Regions from separate parts of the Homo sapiens genome. Here regions 1, 3 and 4 are each linked to region 2. The links come from fine-mapping of genetic effects on gene expression. A gene starts in region 2. Each other region holds a variant in brackets. All regions are shown on one strand. Distances are from middle to middle.

Region 1 (2,690 bases), 40 kb after region 2:
GTCAATTTTACTCTAGTGCACAAAGGGAGTTCTGAACTGTGCATTAGCCTATTCGCAGCAAACAGGCAAACTTGCAGGAGGCTAGGAGGAACACTCAAGGTTTGGGTTCAGGGGGCAGCCAGCCTGCAGTCTGAGCACTTCTAGTTGTGCAGCCGTGGGCAAGAGACTCAGGAGAGCTAAGGACTGATACTGCCTCCTCCCACAAGCCTGGGGTGAGGAGTAAATTTGAGATAATGCAGGTAATGCAACGCCCAGCACTTGTTAAACGTTCAGCAAATGTTAGCTATTATGATTACAACCAAGGAGAAACTGGATGGATGATAGAGGAGTTAAACAGAAACAGAAAAACTGAGGTTTCTATTATAGAAATTAGTCAAGTCCCCTACAAATCTTGGGATTTCCTAAACTGAATCCTTGAGAAGCCAGCAGAGGTGTCATTCAGTGCTCTGGAGGGCAATAAACAAGCTGTTGGCAGTTATGAAATACTGTGTTCCTATCATTGGTGAAAGCCAGTTCTCCATTTTACAGGAATACAAGTCTCCACTAACTCCACTTCACTGTCTCAGCAGGCCGGGTGAGTTATAATTGGCCTTAATTGGCACTTACAGGAGCTTTAACATTCCTTACCTGCTGCCAAGGAGCACTTGAAAGGGGAAAAAAGTATTTTCAAACTTGGAAATACCAAGCAATTCATTCGGCTGTGGGCCTGGAAGCCTGCTATCCAGAATCAGATTAGCTTCACCTAGAAATGTTGCTATGTTATTATCCAGAGCTCATTAGGTACTCACACTGGATTAGGAGAGGTGGGAGATGAAATTTAAATGGGGATAATTCACCTTGGGGGCTAAAACCATGCAGCAGCCTTCCTCCAGCTGATCTTTTGGTCGATGGCTCTCCAGGGCTCAGCCACACTTCATGTGTGTAAGGCAGGCAAATAAAATATATCTTCATGGCCTGATTTACACAGGCTTTGAGTTAACCACAGCGTGACCTCAGCCCAGTCATTATTTGAAACACACAATGAACACCTTTATAAGGTGACCAGTCATACCAACTGCAAAGAGGATAGGGAGATCAGAAACAAAACTGGCCATAGTTTTTCCTTGGCCTTGCAATTAATCACACTCAAAATTATGATCCTCTAGGAGGCCTCACATTTTGCACAGGGGAATCCTAGCATAAGAGAATGAGATTTCTTCCTTAAATTCCATACAGAATGAATAGAAACTTCCCATAGACGCCCGAGAAACTGCCTATAATTGTTTAAATATTTTTTAAAATAATCACTCGTTTTGAAAGATCTCTTTGTCTCATATTATTAAGTATTACTAGACTTGTGGTTGTTTGAGGAATTTATTTCAAATTAAAATTAATCATACGTGTGTGTGTGTGTGTGTGTGTGTGTGTGTGTGT[GTT/T]TATGTGTCTAAGGAACATTGTAAGAGGCTTTAGAAAATTAAATGGAAGCTTAGAAAAATAAATACAACACCTACTCCTTTGGAGATAACTCTCATAGTGGCTGGTAGAGATATAAAGCATTACAGCCTTTTTGGAAAGCAATCCAGCAGCAGCTATTAACACTGCAAATAACTAGTCTTTTGTGACCCAGGAATCCCTTCCTGAGACTCTATCCCACAGAAACTAAACCACCAGTAATTAAGTATGTATGTACCAGAGTGGGTACTGCTGTTTGGTTCACACAGACAAAAAGCAAGAAACAAAATGAATGTCCATAGAGGGCCTGGCAGAGGAAGCTACAGCACAGCCACACTTTAGAGCAGTATGCAACCATTAAAAAGAGGGGATTAGTGTTATCCAGGGCTGTGAATGGATTTACATGAGGTATTGTTGAGTAGAAAAGGAGCAGAAGTGTGCATAATAGGATCCACTTTTTTGTAAAACTATCACCAAAAGCCCCTACTAATAAAATACGTGATTCTATGTGCCTGGATAGAGTTAGAAGCATGAGAAAAATATACAAGGATGCATATTAAGTTACATACTAAGAATGCAGCATGTATGATTTATAGCGTAGCATGGACTGCTACAGTTAGAGAAGGCAGGTAAGTTGAAAGAGCCAATGAAATAAGAAAAAGGCTGCACTGAAAATAGTTGAGATGATTACATTTGTGTATTTATATAAAAATACGTTATAGGTGTATATATTTCATATATTCATATGCCAATCAAAAAATCTATAAAGAAACAGGTCTAAAAAATTTGTGTTACAAAAATGCACTGTGAAGGTAGCTAAGAAAAATTAAATACAAAATTCTGGCCGAGTGTGGTGGTTCACACCTGTAATCCCAGCACTTCAGGAGGCAGAGGCAGGTGGATTGCTTCAGCCCAGGAGTTTGAGACCAGCCTGGGCAACATGGTGAAACCCTGCCTCTACAAAAAATACAAAAATTAGCTAGGTGTGGTGGCGTGTGCCTGTAGTCCCAGGTACTGGAAGGGCTGAGGTGGAAGGATTGCTTGAGCCCGGGAGGTGGGGGTTACAGTGAGCCAAGATCACGCCACTGCACTCTAGCCTGGGCAAGAGAGTGAGAATCTGTCTTGAAGAAGAAAAAAAAAAAAAAAAAAGAAATACAAAATTCTGGTATTACATCAAACAAGTGTATCTTGATTATTGTCACTCTCTTAATTTGTTTGGCTAAGCAGACTGAGACTCAAGTAGCACAACAGACCACAGT
Region 2 (2,690 bases):
AATCAGTATCACTTATCCTCACAGTCAGCCTTCGTTTGGAAACTTAATAGCTCTTACCTGGATTACAACAGCTTTGTAACTTATTTTTGTCCCAAGGTTCTCACCTGTTGATTCTGTCTTCCATTGTTATTGGAGGGCCATAGGTGGCAGAGATGTTTTTTCCACAAAGTATTAAATTATAAGTGATTCTCCCCTTCCCCCTGGAGACTTTTTCTTTGGCTGATAGCCTCACTCTCCCTTACCTCCTAAGAGATATTCTGGTCCATGGTCTTTGGATGTAGAAAATGAGGATAACAAGTGCCAAGAATTACAGCCTTACAAGGTGAAATACTACTTTAATTAACTTCCATTAACAACAGGAGCAAGAACTTCTTACAGAAAGAGGAGACTAAGAAAGGAGTGAGAAGGGAGAGGAACTTAAGAGTTGATTTAGGGGAGTGCTTTTTGTTAGGACTGGGGACAGGGGCAGGTAAAGACAGATCTTTGAAGCAAAAGAGAGTGAGAATGCAAGACATGGGGAAAGAGACTTAAGTGCTCCTTTGCTTTTCCACAGTTTTCAGTACAGATTTGAATGGCTTTGACTTTTGGCAGCTGCACAGTGCTAGGACTGGACCATGAAATATCTCTGGGCTCTGACAATTACATTTGGGTTAATCTAAGCCTGATCCCATGTGTTCCTGGAAGAGAAGCCCCATGACATTCAAAGTCCTTGACAATCTGACACCAGCTTTTCTAACCCTATAAGGCCCTTCCATCCAGCAAACTTCCTGCAGAATTATTCTCTATCCCTCACATGTTCATACCCATGCTCGACGCATTTGCTCTCTCTGCCTAGAATCTTACTCTTGTCTGCCTTTCTGCCTGGTTAAATCCCACATACGCCAAGATCCAACACTGCTAAACCCCTTTCCTTGAGTTGGGATCATCTTGTTATGCAGGGCCGGGATACCTGCAAGGGAATGGAATTAAAAAGGTTAAGAGATTGAGCAGTTGAACCTTTTCTTGGGAGGTTTGAGGACAAGCCATAGTGAAAGGATTTACCTACAGAGAGCACCTCATTATTAGATTTGTGGAAAGTACTGAGTGGATGGTTGACTCAAGTAAGGAGGGAATGGGAAGTCCACAGGGCAGTAGGAACTGAAGCCAACATGACTCTTTCATATCAGGTATGGACATTCTTGCTAACACACAGCGGTTCCTCCTCTTATTTTAAGCAACAAAAATAATTTATCAGAATGGTTTATTTGCAAACAGTAAAAATGTCTGGATTTCTAGAGGTAAATGATTATGCTGTGTTCCAAATAATACTAAAATGCACTTGTATTGCCAGTAAGGGAGGTATGTAAAAGAAAGGAAGAGATTAGACCGGGTCTGGATAAAAAGCTTATCTTAAACCAAAACTACATGTCATCAAATTTGCACCTAAGTACAAATAGAATGTGTTTCTCAATCCATCAACTCCCTCGTTTCTTTCACAAACATGCAAGGCCAGAATACAGTAATGTTCACTGTTTACACAGTTACTAATTTATCCAAAGCAAAGCTTTGTGCCCCCAGATGGAAACATCCCCAGGCCTTAGAAGTATTTAGCTTATATAAGAGGAAGGCTAAATTGAAGGGGCTTCACAAGGGTGTTCCATGCCAAAAGTGATGAAAAGTCAGAGTAGACTGAAAGGGTTTAGTATCACAACGAGGCAGAAACGTACAATATTTCATGCAGCCAACCTTATTTATTGAGAAGTCCTAATTTTATTGCCCGTTTAGTAACATGTTTGTTCCACAAGCTAATTTCTTATAAAGCAAAGCACAACCTTTTCTTATAAATAGTATAAATTATTTTATTTACAGAAACTTGTTACAAAACAAATAGACTATATATTTCTTCTCTTTTAAATATCCAAAGTAATTTTCTATCCCTTGACATTTGTTCATGTTCTATACAGCAGCCAACACAAAGTCCAGCTGAGATGCTCTTGATTATGTGTACAAATTATCAAACTATTCACACGTTTTTAACACAGGAGATTGCTTTTATAACCAAGCTCAAAAAAAAAAAAAAAAAAAAAAAAGCAAAATGCTTTCAAGGCCCTACATTCACACTGACAGTATGTAGTGCTCATTTAAATTATCTGAAAATGTAAAATGTTTTGCACAAAATGTAAAAGTGATTATTTTCTGCTAAACAAACTTTTAAGAATATTTTTTCAAAGCCCAATCGCCCCAAACCCCCTGGACAGAATGAGCGACATTAAGAAATTCCTTGGCAACAGAACTCTTGCAGGAAGACAGCTGCCCTTATAAGTTACATTTTTCAAATTATACATTTTTTTCAATGTTCTCAGAGGTACTTCTTTGTATTATATTTTTGGAATACAAAATATTTTAAATATTTTAAATTGTATTTCATGAGTGAATAACAAAACGGACACATCGTGTAAGTTGCTGGCTGACAAAAAGATCTGTAACCCTTGGTGCCACCAGGCAATCCATCACCAATTGAATTACTATGAACCAAGAGGTCTTAATTTTAAAATACCTTATAAAATTACCAGCATTGGTGGTTTTCAACTCCGCCCCTAAAATTTTAGAAACAATATTTAGGTGGAAAAAGCAAACTCCAAAAGTTCAACTGAACATTCAAGTCTTTTTAAAGAGATTCTGTCTAAGCTTAAAACTAGTTTCAGGCACTT
Region 3 (2,676 bases), 64 kb after region 2:
AATACTAGATTTAAAGAAAATAAAGTGAGATGTTTCAAGTAAAAAGCAAGCAACAAAAACCACAGCAGCAGTCCCCAACCTTTCTGGCACCAGGGAACAGTTTCGTGGAAGACAATTTTTCCATGGGACTGGGGCAAGGAGAGAATGGTTTCAGGATGAAACTGTTCCACCGCATATAATCAGACATTAGTTAGATTCTAGGAGCACACAACCTAGATACCTTGCACGTGCAGTTCACAATAGGGTTCACACTGCTGTGAGAATCTAATGCCACCGCTGATCTGACAAGAGGCAGAGTTCAGGCGGTAATGCTCATTCCTCTCTCTCTCCCAAACCCCCCACCCCATAGCCTGACTGCTAACAGGCCACTGACAGACTGGTGCTGGTCCACTGCCCAGAGACTGGGGACCCCTGCACCAGACGACCAAGGAGCTAGAAAGATGAAAATATTCCTAATATTAATTACTCACTAATTACAAATGGCCAATATTATCAATAGTGACCCCTAACAGGTAAGAGTTACAGTGTTTACATTGTCATTGCTTGTACTGAAATTGAGATAAAATGCTGGGGATAGAATAGAGTAGGCAAATATCAAAATCCTGAGGAACCTGCGTTAGGAATGGCAGGTGGGGCTACAACAGTGACCAACATGGCAGTACACACGACAGGTTTGTCTCACGGGTTCCTTAAGCTACTCCTCAAAATACTGTCAGCAAATCCTGACCTCTCAAGTCAGAAAACAAGCTTTCAATGCCATGTGTCCCAAATCTGGAAGTGCCTACCAAAAACCTTATAAATCTTGTCTGCATCCCTACCATTTGGACAAGCATGTAGTCTAGAGTAGGATACGGGCTCTAAGAGTCTACCACTTAGCTTGGTTTTGTAATCTCCAGCAATGTACTTAACCTCTAGGCACATCTAGGCATACAGTTTCTACATTTGAAAATGATAGTATCAACTTTAATGGACTGTTGGACGGAATGAGATAATTCATGTAAAAAGTTGCGGTCTATATCTGTCTAAACACAGTAAGCAGAGTGTACACATAAGGGCTCGATAAAGAACAGTGTTTATTTTGTTACTATTATTATTATTGTGGTTATGATTATAATCTCATGACTCAGTTAAGAATACCATTCCTTCTTTTGTTCATTGCAACACCACATCTGTCAGGTATATTGTGTAAATTCCATGGCTCTCATTCAACTTAGAACAGAATTAATTATGAAATGGCATTGGCTACTGACCTGTCTTTACGTTTTTAAATGGTTAATGTAGCATTTATGTCTGCCGTAAGGCTCCCAGCCTTGGCTGAGGGGCTGTGTGTGTGTGTGTGTGTGTGTGTGTGTGTGTGTGTGTGTGATGGGGCATGGCCTCAATGCTCCAGCAGGGAGTTTATGACTCTGCTTTAGCCTTCACTTCCTGCTTGTATACAGCCTCCAGGTTAGCAAGAGGTGAGATTAGGGCCTTCTCAGGTCCTTTCTGGGCATGCGCACAACTCTACACATCCATGTGGTTTTCTGGATTCCCAGGAGTATGGTGGAACTCTTTGAAGCCCCCAACTGACATCTCATTCCCCAGTGTTTCCTATTTACTTTTTTGGTCAGCCTCTTCTTAGCCCCAGTTGGCATTACCACCTCAAGCAAC[T/A]GTGACATTGAAGAATCACTGCTGATTTTTTTTTTTAACACCCTAGGAATAGGTCACAGAATGAGCTCTGAGCTAGCCCAAATAAAGACAAGTCCTGAGAATGGGGCTTTTCAGGGAGCTACCAGATACATCAGTGACAATTCTCTGAAAATAAGGCTTTGGGGGAGTTCCAAACCCATTCTGTCCCCTCCAGTGGCTGCTAGACTGCTGGCTTTCACGGCTACCCTAGTTGTGAAGCTGCTGGTTTTCAAAGTTACTGTGGAGTTGGGGAGGAGAGGTTGAAATAGGGCAAGTTAAAACACTATAGAATTCTCTGTACTTACAGATTCAGCCATTTTTCTTGAATATATGCTCATCTGAATTTGCAAGCCTTTGGGGTTAATTTGCACAATTCTAAACAAGTTGATTTTGACAATTCTTGCCAGTGCTTTTATTGCTTTTATGGCAGAGCAGATTTTTGGAGGTCCTTACTCTGACATTCGTTAGTGCTTAATAGAAGCATTTTAATGAAGGATAATATCATCAGTTTGTTTATTATTATGTTCAACATTGCTTCGACTATAGTATGGGGAAGGGAGGTGCTTGGTTTGAAAGTGGAAGTGAGGAGGTCAATCAAGAGCTGTCTGCAGCAGTACAGGGTGAAAGACATGGGGATGGCAGTGAGATGACAAAGAAAGGATTCCAAGACATTTAGAAGGAACTGTTGACATGACTTTGTAATAGCCTGGATACAAAGGTGGTGAAGAGAAGGATGCCATGCTTCCCATCTTACAGAACAGGATGGATGGATAAGAGGTATCAGTCTCTGAGAAAGAATCCTGGAAGAATGCCAGGTCTGAGAATGAAGCCCATATATGTGGGACATCTAAGTTCTAAGGGCCTCTGAGACAGCCAAGATACCAAAGAAGCCATCATCTTGAAGATTCTCCCCTAGTTTCAGGCAAATGTCTTACAAATCAAGTCCTAAAACTTTATTTCTTCCATATGCAAAAAAAAAAATTAAAAAAATTTTAAAAGGCAAGGCAC
Region 4 (2,690 bases), 160 kb after region 2:
CATTCTGACCCCACCCCCATTCCCATCATGGCCTAAACTAGTTTTTCAGGTTTACTTTGGAAAGCCCTTGGCCTATTGAATGGGTGTCCATTCAATTGGCTGGAGGGCTTAGAATTTTATTTTTGGTTTACAGTTTCTTCATTAAACTTTTGGAAATTTTGTCCAATGGTATAAACTAAAAGTTATGTCAGAGTTTGTTTTTTTTGTTTGTTTTTTGAGACAGAGTCTCACTCTGTTGCCCAGACTGGAGTGCAGTTGCACGATCTTGGCTCACTGCAACCTCTGCCTCCTGGGTTCAAGCAATTCTCCTTCCTCAGCCTCCTGAGTAGCTGGGATTACAGGCACGCAACCCCACACCCGGCTAATTTTTGTATTTTTGGTAGAAACAGGGTTTCGCCTTGTTGGCCAGCCTGGTCTCGACTCCTAACCTCAAGTGATCCGCTCGCCTCTGCCTCCCAAAGTGCTGGGATTACAGGCGTGAGCCACTGCACCCGGCCTTCTTTTCATTCTTCTGATATAGCTTTTTGGAGACACAGCACTTTAGGATTATAATTGCTTGCAGAAAGCTTTCATAAAAGGCATTAGAACCAAAACAATTAACTGTGGACAACATGACTTAAAATGGCCATGGTTAAAACCTGATGAGAGTTCATTAAAATAATGATGAAATTGACAAGGAAATTTGGTTATTTTTCAACCAAAATTATGACTGATAGCATTTATACCAATACATACCAGATTTATAGGAACTTTTTTTATCACAGGGTGGGTGGGAAGCCTGATTTTAGGGGCTTTCCTAGAAATTTTTTTTAGCAGTCCTTTTTCCAATGTCCTGGTTATTTGCACAAGTGGTGGTACTTCCTATTCGCCTACGCAATTCTTCGATCCATTCCCAACAAACTAGGAGGCGTTCTAGCCCTCCTACTAGTGAATTTTTGGAAACTGCTGTTTTAGGGATTGCTTATTTGGGGAAGCACCCTAGGACAGGCCCAAATGTCATTCTAGGTTGCTGGTTGTCATGGAGCTGAAATACTTGGGGAATGGCTTTTCAAACTGTAATTTGCAGTCTTTTGGGTTTTGCCTGACCCATAAGTAGATCGGACGGGACTTGTTGGGTACTTGATAGAATTCTCAGGAGACTATCATTCTGCCTCTTTCATCCATGTGGGGCTCCCTAGAGTACACCAACACATATACTAGTTGGTACAGATCAAGTATACTGGGGTTATAAATTACCAGTAAGGCCAAGCACGGTGGCTCATGCCTATAATTCCCGCACTTTAGGAGGCCGAGGTGGGTGGATCACCTGAGGTCAGGAGTTTGAGAACCAGCCTGGCCAACATGGTAAAACCACGTCTCTACTAAAACTACAAAAAAATTAGCCTGGCGTGGTGGTGGGTGCCTGTAATCCCAGCTACTTGGGAGGCTGAGGCAGGAGAATAGCTTGAACCCAGGAGACGAAGGTTGTGGTGAGCCAAGATTGCGCCCTTGCACTCCAGCCTGGGCAACAAGAGTGAAACTCCGTC[T/C]AAAAAAAATAAAAATTTTTAAATAATAAGTTACTAGTAAGACCCTGAATTCTTCAGAAAACTTGTGAAATTTTTCTCTAGGTTTAGGAAAATCTTGAACTGTGGCCCTGAAGTCCATTTTTGTCCAGGGAGTGCAAGTCGCTTGGGGATTATCTCCTGATTTTTCAGACGATTCTCTTATAAGGAAACTGTTTAACTGCTTTTTTCAGGGAAGAAAGGCAATTCAGACAAAGCAGACTGAATATTTAGTAGTAGATTGTAAATATTCAGGCAAAGAAAGAGAGAGAGAGGCAGTAGGAGTTACATCAGTTTTACCATCCTTGGTAAGGGAATATCTTCCATTTCCAGCTTTTCATTAGCTCTTTACAGTGAATCTTTTTAAAAGGTGATTTTAGAGGACTGTCTCTTTGAGGCTTCTGAATGCCAATAAGAATTTTGTTCTCTCTGCATAATTTGGGAGGCTCGGGGTTCGAGTGCACTTCTTAGATGAATAGTCTTTTTCATGTGGAACATTCCATGTAATGGCATCATAATTCTGAATTATCTTTTGTAAGATTTTGCCATTTGTAAATATTTGTAGCTTCCAGAACCAGAAACCTTATACACAAAAAAGGCAGACTGGCCAGAAGGGAGGGTACTCAGATCTTTAGAAATTAAAGAAACCATTTTATGTTGGATATTGGGTCTTCCAAAGCCAAAATGGCTTTGGCTTTGAGATCGCCTTGACCAACTTAGCTAATGACATTTCAGTTTCTTTTTTGTCTGACCCAGTCAGATGCCTGAGGCCTCCCTCATCTAAACATGTAAGAAAAAAAGAACACACATACCTATGAATTCCAAAAGCCAGAGTTCATGTCCCCCTCCACCTCATGGTAATAACCACTTACTGTGACTGCCGTTGGTTACCTTTACTACTGCAGCCCTTTATGGTAGCCACAGAGAGTGTAACGCACATTTCCCTCTGGTCATATGCTGGTCACCAATGGGATGCAACCCGTATTTCTGTCCAGCCACATTCTTCAGGGCTTGACCCAAGCCTTTTATGGCATCATGCATGAGATATCACCAGAGTGGGAGCCGAAACAATGTAGTCATTGCCAGTGACTTGTCAGCCACTATGAACCCAGAAGTCATGTGCCCTGCCACAGTACAAACTAACCCTAG

Direction of the effects. Alleles are on the strand shown, and positions count from the first base shown. SD is a standard deviation of normalised expression in the study named. Not every link is listed here.
With allele T in place of C in region 4, the expression in lymphoblastoid cells of the gene that starts at base 1,253 in region 2 is higher (small effect, 0.36 SD a copy in TwinsUK).

The links. PIP is the estimated chance that this variant, and not a neighbour inherited with it, causes the effect.
Region 1: its variant is fine-mapped to the expression of PSMD6-AS2 in Th17 cells (Schmiedel 2018, PIP 0.95).
Region 3: its variant is fine-mapped to the expression of PSMD6-AS2 in whole blood (TOPMed, PIP 0.99).
Region 4: its variant is fine-mapped to the expression of PSMD6-AS2 in lymphoblastoid cells (TwinsUK, PIP 0.95).

The regions. Positions count from the first base shown.
Region 1 is chr3:63,962,799-63,965,488 of GRCh38, reverse strand. All of the region lies in intron 5 of ATXN7 (ataxin 7), which reads right to left. Among named protein-coding and RNA genes, the nearest start is that of PSMD6-AS2, 40 kb to the left of the region's middle. RefSeq lists an enhancer at 445-949. The variant GTT/T (reference allele first, on the strand shown) is at 1,414.
Region 2 is chr3:64,002,585-64,005,274 of GRCh38, reverse strand. It overlaps PSMD6-AS2 (PSMD6 antisense RNA 2), which reads right to left and starts at 1,253. Exons shown (of 3, transcript NR_038286.1): 1 at 1-1,253. ATXN7 (ataxin 7) reads right to left here. Exons shown (of 13, transcript NM_001377405.1): 13 at 1,813-2,690.
Region 3 is chr3:63,938,975-63,941,650 of GRCh38, reverse strand. All of the region lies in intron 4 of ATXN7 (ataxin 7), which reads right to left. Among named protein-coding and RNA genes, the nearest start is that of PSMD6-AS2, 64 kb to the left of the region's middle. The variant T/A (reference allele first, on the strand shown) is at 1,651.
Region 4 is chr3:63,845,263-63,847,952 of GRCh38, reverse strand. The region is part of intron 6 of C3orf49 (chromosome 3 open reading frame 49); the gene reads right to left. The region is part of intron 1 of THOC7 (THO complex subunit 7); the gene reads left to right. Among named protein-coding and RNA genes, the nearest start is that of THOC7-AS1, 14 kb to the left of the region's middle. The variant T/C (reference allele first, on the strand shown) is at 1,527.